Linked DNA regions of Homo sapiens. The protein of the gene in region 2 interacts with the protein of the main gene of each other region in a biochemical or structural test. Each region holds a gene or a part of one and is shown on either strand. Other genes may lie near its edges.

Region 1 (3,600 bases), on a different chromosome or scaffold from region 2:
CCTCTTTTGACAAGAAATGCCTTAAATCTGGCAAGAAAAACAGCTCCAGGCTTTTTCTGCTAATATCAAAGATCATTTGTTTGTATTAGATGTTTGTGTGGGTTTCCCTTAAGAGCAGTAAAGTACTGCTACAATTTCTTCCAAAACAATAGCACGCACAAAGTTTCTTGGCTTGCATTTCCACTGTACACCTGCACCAGAACAACTGTCTGGAATTAGGAAAGTTGTGACAGAGTAGACAGAGAAATGCATTTGCTTTAGTCACTTCCTTTTGGATATCAACAAATGGTAACCGTCAAATTCATGAATGCAGCATCATTTCAAATCTACTATCTGTAACTTTTCTTCATGAAATGCTTGCTACGGAGAAAATGAAATTTACATTCAAAATTATACCCCTTCTTTTCAAAATCCCATGCTATATTTTATTTCTAACTGAGGTGTCCAAAAGATCCTTAAGAGAAGCACTATCTTTTACTTTCTGATTCCAGACCTGTTAATGCATACATATTTAGTTATGGGTAATCCTCAGTTAATACTCCCTTTCCAGAGAGACTTCCGCGATCAGTACCGAAATATTGCACCTTCCAAAAAGTCTTGAGGACTGCTTAAAGGTGTCTCCTTGTACTCTAACCATGCTGAATGTAATTTAACATTGAGATGCATCAGAAACAGTCAATAGACTTTCTCTCCCAGATGTGTACACATTAGCATACTGCTTTCCTACACCTTGTTCTTTGCCTTTTAAATTTTCAATATGTACAAATGAAATACAGATTTCAACCCATTCCCAATTGGGATGTCTGCTCCATAAAAGAAAAATAGGTTTTTCCCTTCCTACAGATTCAGCAACGAAAGTAGTGCTTGAAAATTACGTGTTTAGAGTGACACCTTGGAGAACTGACATACTGTGCACACATGTAATCCTCATAAACTTCCCCAGACAGCCCTTATTTCATTTTGCAAACTGCACCCTGGCCAGGCTCCACGGCACGTGGTGTGTGGCGAGACTGTCCTGCAGCAGTTCTCCCGTCCTCCGGGCTCTTTGATGGGCACTTGTCAGTAACAGCCAAGAGGAATCCGATCCTGCCTCCAGCAAGTGAAAAGGGGCACCGACAGTAATGCTTCCTTAATTAACTTTCCCAAGGAAAGCAACGTTCCCACAGGAAAAAACAACACGTTTCCCCCCTCCTAGCCGTCCATTGAAAATGAGCAACAATGCTGTTGCCTTTTTGTTTCCTAAGACTTTCTTCGCTGCAAGCAGTAGCGTGTTCCTCAAAGAATGCTAGTATTTCCTGTGGAAACTGTATGGCTGCCAGTAATGGCTCATAATTTTCCCTCTTTTCTCTTCGTAAAAATGAAATAAACAAAATGTGGCCTTTGACAATTAGCTAAAATTGGGTTCACCCCACTTACCACCTGCAGATGAAAGTCATCGCCAAGAGACAAGGCCAAGAGAGAAACATTCCCCTCTGAAATCCACGCGGACCAGCCTGGGACGCAGAACAGCACTAGAGGGAGGCTGGCGGAGCCCGGGCTGGACAGGGCAGTCGGGGAGCTGGTGCTGATGAGCGAGGGGCGGCAGCAACACCAGACGTCCCTTTTCTACAGCTATTATTACCGTTGTTAGTACTGTCGCTATTACTATTACTTCGCCCCTCCTTATCTCAGCTTTTCCGAGCCGCGGAACTGCCCATCCCTGCCTGCGATAAGATCCCGGGTGACAGCAAGAATAAGAACCACATGAGGCGGGCAAATGAAAAGAACAATCCTTTGGAAACCGAGGCGGGGGTTGTTTCCCCCTTTCCCCAGTAAAGCAGCCGCTGCCGCCACCACTGTTACTGTTACTATAGAGACCTCCCCCTCAAACCCTTTCTGCAGAGGCGCCTCTGCTGCCCGGAGCAGCCGAGACTCGCGGCACAAAGGGGTCCCGGGGCTTGGGGAGCACGGGGCGACACCCGCCGGGGTCGCCTGGTGCAAACTTGGAAAGGCTGAGCCGCTGGCTGCCCGCCTCCCGCCTCCCCGCGGCGTCCGCTTGGGACCTGGACTCACCCGGGGCGCCCGGCGCGCCGGCGGCTCAGGAGCGCGAAGGGACTGACTGACCGACCGACGGACCGCAGCGGCAGGAGCAGAACAGCCTCAGCCGAAGTAGGCGGGCGGTGGAGGCGCTGCCGCGGCCCCGCTACGTCACAATGCGGCCCGGCCGCGGGCGCCGCTCCCCGGGCCCCCCAACGGGCGCGCGCGGGCGGGGGCAGCCTGGGCGGCCGCGGCCCGAAGCCGGCGCTGGGGGACAAGGAACGCAGCGCGGGCGCCCGGCCGGGGACGGGGGCGCGGCCACCACTGCCACTGCGGAGGCTGCCGGGGCCGCCGCGCCCTCAGGCTGCGCTGCGCCCCTGCGGCCGCCCCCAGGCCAGCGAGCCCCGCTCGGCCTGACTGACAGCGACCCTCCCCGCGGCGCCCCCGGCTCGGCCCACGCCCCTCCCTCGCCGCTTCCTCACCAGGGATCCCCCGGCCTGCCCGCCGGCTCCTGTCCACGAACCTGCTCTTTCTTTACCTTTCGCTCTTTTTACCTCGACTGCCGTTGCTTTTCCCCAGCTGGGGCTCTCCTCTCCTCCCCGCCTACTTTTTGTCCGCGCTTCCCACTTTTCTCCTCCTGCCCCCCACCCCCTTCCTTGCTTCTTGGCCTCTCCCCCTGGAAATCGCCCCCTCACCGTGATCCAAGCGTTAACCGCTGCCATCTCATTGGTCCCCAGACCATTCCAGGGTTCCAGCATAAACTGGGAGAAGAGACTCGGGAAGGCGGGGAACGGAAGGTGGGCATTGCCCTGGGAAACTCATGTCTGAGAAGCCTTTTGGCAGAGTATTTTGCGTTGGCACGGAGTCTTCACCCCCACCCCTCCCCCCGAAGCTCGCCCACCCCTGAGGACGTGGCCAAGGAGAGGAGGGCAAGGGTGGCTTTGCCTGCCTGGAATGTTCTGTGCTCAAGTGTGGGTGGATGGAGAAGATGTTAGGCTGAAATAAAGACTTTTTAATTCAACGACGTTTCAGTGTACCAATGGCCCTACAGTAATATTATCTTTACTTTTATTGTCTCTTAATTGTTGAGGGATTGGGGGTGGGAGGCTGCTGGATGAGGCGTAAGCAACGCCTGCAGTGGTGACTACTTCTTTCCTTATTTCCGAAATGAAATCAGGGGTTGTGGAAGCATTTATGGTAACCTTGGCTCGCGACTGTCTCGCTGTTGCCCTCTGGAAAGCTTTAAATGGTCTTTGAGAAATCTCTTTCCCAGGCGAGATGACTTGGAGAAGTTCACTCAGCAAAGCCATTGAGGACCACACTCTTGTTCCAGGGTATGGCTGCTTGCCTGATGCTGCCCCAGAGAAAAGCATGAGGAAGTAAGTCTTGGTCAGTTTAGAGGCATCCTCATTCCCATGCCTGTTCCAGAGGACAAGAGCGACGCCAAGATCCTAGGACACCCGGCACTATCTGAGTAGTGGCAATGGGGATGTGTGATCTTGTTACAACAAAAAAAGGAAGGCTCTGGTTGTTTAAAGCTGGGGTTTCCTGGGTAACTAGCCTAAGACTGCCTGCAGTCTTTGT
Region 2 (3,848 bases):
TGCATTTCTGATAAACTCCCAATTGCTGCTGCTGGCCCACAGATCACACTTTGGACTGCAAGAAAGTAAATTCTCCGAGTCCTAGAGGTAGCAAGAAGTAGAGCCAAGACGGGCTAAGTTGCTTGGCTCCGGGGCCCACACTTACTGCCAGTCGGCTTAGCATTTGCATGGCAGACACATCACAGCCCAGGTACCATGAATGCGCTCAAGGATTCAAAATCAATGTCTGTCACCCTTTTTGACTGCATTTTCTAGCAACAAAAATTCTGTATTCAGTGCGTAGTATATACCAGGAACTGTGGTAAACACTGGTTCAAACGATTTTCATTTAATCCACTGAAGTAAATTATCGGCCATTTGATTCCCTTCTTACAGGAAGCAAATCACAACCCCACTGATGCACTGGGACTCTAGTGAGTTTAATTATCATGCACAGAAAAGATTGAGCATTAATTTGCAAAGAATTAGAATCTAATAACACACCTCTAACACCAAAGGTAGTCAACCTTTGGGGATTGAGGAAGAATTGTAAGATCTTACAGAGCATCAGAGGTATCATTTGGAAAATTAATTATAGTCAAATAGATGAAGAAGGTGTAGGAGTTTGGGCCTGATTCTGTGAAATTATCAAAAAGTACTCTAAAAAAGAATGTAGTGATATTTTCCTTGTCATAAGGGTTTCATTTTCTATTATATAATAGATATTTTATTAATTCTGTTTTTCTTACATAAGTAGACCATAAATTCTTGATTTATGTATGAAATGTTTGGAAGCTACAGGTCATACAAAATAACACCTTCTATAAAATTTCACAAAATTTCCATTAGTCCTTATTTACTCAGAACAAATTTAGAAAGATTGAAAAGAGTGTATTACAGACAGTTAAATTCTACCACTTAATTTGAAATTTTTTCTTTATCTTCCCTTTAAGAAAGTGGAATCCAGCAGCCTGCCTGCATTTTTGGCAGACTCTGCAATAATTACGATGCTCAGATGATTCCCAAGATGGACCTCCCCAGCTGTAAATACCCTGCCTCCACGCTCATTCCTGTCAAGTGCAGATCTCCCCATCTTGGCATATGGGCAGTGTCCTCTGAAACACTTCAGGGTTTGAAGAGTAAAAGATGTAAATGATTTGCTTCACTGGCCATGTAGGCCTCCAGGAGAGGGACACCCAGACACTACCATTTGTAGAGGCCTGTCGTTAGAAGAGCACACTGTCCAGCCAGGCCTCATGGAGTCTTGAATGCAATGTCTCCCTTCCCCTTGAAATCACAATATGACCTTGCAGAGGTGACTTCAGAAAAATCAAAACATTTTGAGGCTCCCTACAAGTACTTTACTTAACTTCAACAACCAATGCTGTCATTTCTCACCTACTCTCCCCCACAGTTACTTTTTATTTCTTTATGTTTCAAAACAGATAACCAACCACAAAAAGCAAAACAATTCCCACAGAGGCATGAACCCAAACAGGCACGAACAAAAGCACAAGGTAGACGGGGCCAGCCTCAGCCTGTGCTGCCCCGGCATGGTATTCCTCTCCGCAGCTTTTTGTCAATTGCATGCTGACACTCCTTCCCGCTCTATTTCATGACATGTCTCCTCTCCTTTTGGAAGCATATAAGCAAAAACATGGGGCTGGGTGTGGTGGCTCACACCTGTAATCCCAGCACTTCAAGAGGCCGGGGTCAGTGGATTACCTGAGGTCAGTAGTTCCAGACCAGACTGGCCAGCGTGGCCACAGTTTTTCTTTTTTTTTTCTCAAAAGCAAAAAATTCTGAAAAAGTAGTATACCTTGTGATATAGTTTTAAAATCTGACTACTTGGCTGAAATCAATTAACATGACTCTTCAAAAAGGTCCATTTTAAGACTATATCTACTTTCTAACCAAAACATCTAGAGGAAATGCAAAATTTCCTTTCACCTGATAGCTATATTCAGGAAAACACAGGCTACTGGATATTTTACATAAGCTCTGAAGTGAGACGGTCCCTGGGTACGGCTTGAATTGTCTGGGTCGGTTCCTCAAGTGGTCTCTGCAGTTTCCTCATCTATAAAGAGGATATGAACATGGTCTACCTTACAAGGCTGCAAGGAATTAAAAGAGGTATTTCAGGGAAACAGGGTTTCTATAGTGCCAGGTTTGCGGCAAGCACTCACCGACACCGCCTGCAGGTATGGCCCGTTCGCGATGTTCTGGGCAGTGCAGCAGTTCTAGGATTTGAAAACCTTCCGGGTTGTGTTGCCTCCACCCTTTCCTCCTGCAGTTCCTTCACAAGCAGCCAGCATGAGGCTTCCTGAAGTCAGATCATGTCACTCCATTGTTCAAAAGTCAAATTTTCTCAACAGGGTCAAATCCTGGGCCCAGCAGACCCTACCTGACCTCTCCACCCTGCCCTTTTTCTGACATCCTCTTCTCCGAGCTCCACCTGCTCCAAGCTCCACCCCATACTGGCTGCTGCGTTTTCTGGGCGGGGGCCTGCCTGGGGCTCACGAGTTGCTGTCGCCTCTGCCATTTGGCACACAAATGGATGCTCCCTGAGGGTGCCCTCCTCACAGTTTAGCTCATCACACAGGCCTCGCGGCTGCTGTATATTACGGAACTCCCCACCAATACTCTTTGTCCCCTTGACTCTGCTGTTTCTCGATAGAACACACACTTACTAGCTGCTCCAAATAGAATAGCTCCGTTGAGGTAGGCATCTTGTCTGTTTCTATTTTCTGCTACATCCCAGTACCTGGCACTGTGCTTGGCACAGAGTAAGGACTCAATCGTTATTTGTTTATGTAGTTCGTTAACTGTATGACGGATATTGGAGGAGCCTCCTATTTTTTTGCTAGGTCCAATAGCTTCATCTCATCTGTCAGGAGATGATGAATGGCGCCTCATTTAGGAAACACCAATAACACATGAAGGTAATTTACACACAGGCACCCTGGAGCCCAGGTGCAGCTCAACGTTCTTATTGAAAATGTAGTAAAAATAGATTTTATTCACTGACCATATTTTAAGGAATACTATTTTTTACTATTTCGGGCAGTACTACTCAAAGCACAGCCCCTGGGCCCGCGGTGTTAGCATCACCTGGGAGCTTGCTGGAAACGCAACTTCTCAGCTTCCATCCAAGGCCAACTGGTCTGGGCCCAGTCATCTGTGCTTTTATAGGTCCTCAGGTGATTCTGATGAGCACTAAAGCTTGAGTGGCACTGCTGTAAAAACTACTTCAATGACTCGTTCCAGTTCTTTGACGTCCTCTTACAAGTCTTTAGTGTGACATGCTTGCGTTCTTAGTACCAACAGTGTAACTGGTTCTTCATGTACATCATGTTATCACCTCTCATGTTGACCACTTATCTTTTGCCAACTAAAAATACTTGAAAGGCACCTTCTCGGGTTTCAGAAGTTTCCATTTGTTTCGACAACATATGAGGCTACAGCCCAGCTATTCACCCATTAGAGCCCTCCCACGTCCAGCCAGCACTTATATTCTTCGAAGTTAAAATTGAAGACTCTGGAAGCACAGAAAATTGGGATTTCTTTTAATCTCTTTTTCTGAGGCACAGGTTTTCAAACATTGTATAACCAAGGATTTTTTTCATCTTTTCAAATGATAGATGTTTTATGTGTTTAATATGTGAAGTACGTAAAGAGGAATGGTCTCAGGCTGCTGTGATTGGCTTGGTGTGTTCACCTCTCACCGACCTGCCTCTGTTCTCCCACCCAGCGTCCGATTGTTCCGTGAGAACAACAGGTAGGATCCATAATTGTAAGGCTGGAAAACCTTAGCCATAGGGCAGAGTTTCTCAGAGTATGGTCAGTACCAACATTTTGGGGCCTCTACC
Region 3 (3,500 bases), on a different chromosome or scaffold from region 2:
ATACTCAAAAAGGGAAAAGAAAAACTAGAAAATCGTATGAATAACAAATCAGCACCAGGGTCAATTTGGGAAGGGTGAGAGGGAAGAAAGAGTTAGCTTGATAACCTTAGACCCAAGCTCCCAAAGACAGAACCTAGAGAGACAACGAACTACCTAGGCTAAGTAATCAGGAATTTTAGTGAAAGGCAAATATTAGCTTCTTAGCTCCTACTAATGAGCTCTACAAGGTTTTGAATGCAAGCCATTGTTAAAAATGAACATCAAGAAGTTAGTTCTTAACTCTTCTCAGCAACATGTGACTATGTAAGATATTCTCAAGCTCTTTCCAAATTCTCACCAGTATTTGCAAAGTCAAGCCAAGAGGCTGAAGCTGGTAACCATCACTGCACACTTTCCTCCTCAATCAATCCTCCACCAAGTAGGAAGGAGGTATATCGATATTCGAACATTTTTAAAAGGGTACAAGGTTGCCTGACCCTGTTTACTAAAAAGCACTAGTTATTGCTGACATTGTACTTGTTATAACTTACTTAGTCATTATTGGACATTACTGAATTATCGTTACTACTATAAAAAGTTCAGGCCGAGTGCAGTGGCTCATGCCTGTAATCCCAGCATGTTGGGAGACCCAGGCTGGCAGATTGCCTGAGATCAGGAGTTCGAGACCAGTCTGGCCAACATGGTGAAACCCCCTCTCTACTAAAAATACAAAAAAATTAGCCCGACGTGGTGGCATGCGCCTGTAATCCCAGCTACTTGGGAGGCTGAGGCAGGGGAATTGCTTGAACCAGGGAGGTGGAGGTTGCAGTGAGCCGAGATCGCGCCACTGCACTCCAGACTGGGTGACAAAAGCGAGACCTCGTCTCAAAAAAGAAAAAAAAAAAAAAAAAAGCTCAATTTGTTGGAAGTTTCATATTTTTAATCCAGTTTTTAAAAAATTTTAAGTAAAAGAGCAGTTTATTTTTATGCTTTAAATATACTTTTCTTTTCTTAGATATACCTGTAAATTTTGTATTATAGTTTCTCTATGATGTATGTCTTTAGACCATTTTATTTTGACAAAAAAGACTCTGATGGCTGGGCGCGGTGGTGCACGCCTGTAATCCCAGAACTTTGGGAGGCCGAGGTAGGCAGATTGCCTGAGCTCAGGAGTTCGAAACCAGCCTGGGCAACATGGTGAAACCCCATGTCTACAAAAGACACAAAAATTAGCCAGGCATGGAGGCACTTGCCTGTAACCGCAGCTACTTGGGAGGCTGAGGCAGAATAATCGCTTAAACTCAGGAGGCGGAGGTTGCAGTGAGCCGAGATCATGCCACTACACTCCAGCCTGGGTGACAGAGTGAGATTTCGTCTCAAAAAAAAAAAAAAAAAAAAGTCTGAAATAAACATGGTGAAAGTATCACATGGGAATTATTCTGGAAAGCAATTTAGAAATCTGTTCCAAGGCCTTAAAAATGTTCATATCCTTTAACCCAATAATCTGACATCCTCAGAAAAACTAGAAGAAATGATAAGACATTTGAGGTGTAGAGGCAATATAAGAATTGTTCATTGCAATATTAATTATAATAGCAGAATTCAAAAGGCTCACATATAAATTATGCCACATCCATTCATTTTATGAAATATCATGCAGCCTGTTACAAAGACTATTTACTGTCATAGGAAATGAGTACAACACTTACAAGGTAAGTGTGTATATGTCACAGAAAAAGAATGTGCCAAAATACTAACATCAGTCACTGAAGGAGGTGAGAGTATGCTTTCTTTTTTTTTTTTGAGACAGAGCCTCGCTCTGTCGCCCAGACTGGAGTGCAGTGGTGTGATCTCTGCTCACTGCAAGCTCCACCTCCCGGGTTCATGCCATTCTCCTGCCTCAGCCTCCAGAGTAGCTGGGACTACAGGTGCCTGCCACCACACCCAGCTAATTTTTGTGTATTTTTTAGTAGAGACGGGGTTTCACTGTATTAGCCAGGATGGTCTCCATCTCCTGACTTCGTAATCTGCCTGCCTCGGCCTCCCAAAGTGCTGGGATTGCAGGCATGAACTACCGCGCCCAGCCTTTTTTTTTTCTTTTTGAGACAGTATCTCGCTCTGTCACCCAGGATAGAGTGCAGTGGCACAATCTCGGCTCACTGCAACCTCCACCTCTGGGTTCAAACGATTCTCCTGCCTCAGCCTCCAAAGTAGCTGTGATTACAGGTGTGCACCACCATGCCCAACTAATTTTTTTGTATTTTTAGTAGAGACAGGCTTTCGCCATGTTGGCCAGGTTGGTCTTGAACTCATGGCCTCAAGTGATCTGCCTGCCTCAGCCTCCCAAAGTGCTGGGATTACAGACATGAGCCACTACGCCTGGCCATGTATGCTTTAATTTCTATATTTCTTTTCTCTTTTTTTTTTTTTTGAGGCGGAGTTTCACTCTGTCACCCAGGCTGGAGTGCAGTGGGGTGATCTCAGCTCACTGCAACCTCTACCTCCTGGGTTCAAGCGATTCTTCTGTCTCAGCCTCCTGAGTAGCTGGGATTACAGGTGCCCATCATCATGCCTGGCTAATTTTTGTATTTTTAGTGGAGACAGGGTTTCGCCATGTTGGCCAGGCTGGTCTTGTACTCCTGACCCTCCTGACCTCAGGTGATCCGCCCACCTCAGCCTTCCAAAGTGCAGGGATTAGAGGCGTGAGCCACCGTGCCCAGCCAATTTTGATATTTCTTAAAATAAAATTTTTAGAATGTTAGTTTTTCTAATTAAGTAGATTTAAGTTATTTTTTATTATTTATTTATTTATTTATTTGAGATGGAGTTTCACTCTTTTTGCCCAGGCTAGAGTGCAATGGCACGATCTCGGCTCACCGCAACCTCGCCTCCCGGGTTCAAGTGATTCTCCTGCCTCAGCCTCTCAAGTAGCTGGGATTACAAGCATGCGCCACCACGCCTGGCTAATTTTTTGTATTTTTAGTAGAGATGGGGTTTCTCCATGTTGGTCAGGCTGGTCTTGAACTCCTGATCTCAGGTGATCTGCCCACCTCAGCCTCCCAAAGTGCTGGGATTACAGGTGTGAGCCACCGCGCCTGGCCTTAGATTTATTTTTTACATTAACTAGATAATTGATGATATAGAATTACAATTAATTATTATGATTATTATTTTATGACAATAGCATTTAACTATGTTAAAAATAAAGCTAATATATTTTAGAGACACATATTAAAATGGTTATAGAATAATATGATGATTGAGATTTGTTACAAAATAATCCAAACTTGCAGGTGGGACAGTGGAAAGAATGGGAGATGGGAGTATTATAAAACGAGATTGGGCCGGGCTCAGTGGCTCATGCCTGTAATCCCAGCACTCTGGGAGGCCGAGGCAGGTGGATCACTTGAGGTCAGGAGTTTAAGGCCAGCCTGGACGACATGGTGAAATCCCGTGTCTACTAAAAATACAAGAATTAGCCAGGCATGGTGGTGTGTACCTGTAATCCCAGCTACTTGGGA

Evidence for each region.
Region 1: of the proteins of PRKN (region 2) and SNCAIP, one has a biochemical effect on the other in vitro, tested with the Homo sapiens proteins (3 studies listed by BioGRID).
Region 3: the proteins of PRKN (region 2) and ATXN3 form a complex in vitro, tested with the Homo sapiens proteins (4 studies listed by BioGRID and IntAct, with this or other methods).

Annotation. Positions count from the first base shown.
Region 1 is NC_000005.10:122,310,737-122,314,336, reverse strand, and holds the start of SNCAIP (synphilin-1), read right to left. Parts: upstream 2,101-3,600; 5' UTR 2,053-2,100; exon of another isoform or gene 1,417-2,052; intron 1-1,416. UniProt on the Homo sapiens protein: Isoform 2 inhibits the ubiquitin ligase activity of SIAH1 and inhibits proteasomal degradation of target proteins. Isoform 2 inhibits autoubiquitination and proteasomal degradation of SIAH1, and thereby increases cellular levels of SIAH.
Region 2 is NC_000006.12:162,255,549-162,259,396, forward strand, and holds part of PRKN (E3 ubiquitin-protein ligase parkin), read right to left. Parts: intron 1-3,848. UniProt on the Homo sapiens protein: Functions within a multiprotein E3 ubiquitin ligase complex, catalyzing the covalent attachment of ubiquitin moieties onto substrate proteins. Substrates include SYT11 and VDAC1.
Region 3 is NC_000014.9:92,075,583-92,079,082, forward strand, and holds part of ATXN3 (ataxin-3 reference isoform), read right to left. Parts: intron 1-3,500. UniProt on the Homo sapiens protein: Deubiquitinating enzyme involved in protein homeostasis maintenance, transcription, cytoskeleton regulation, myogenesis and degradation of misfolded chaperone substrates.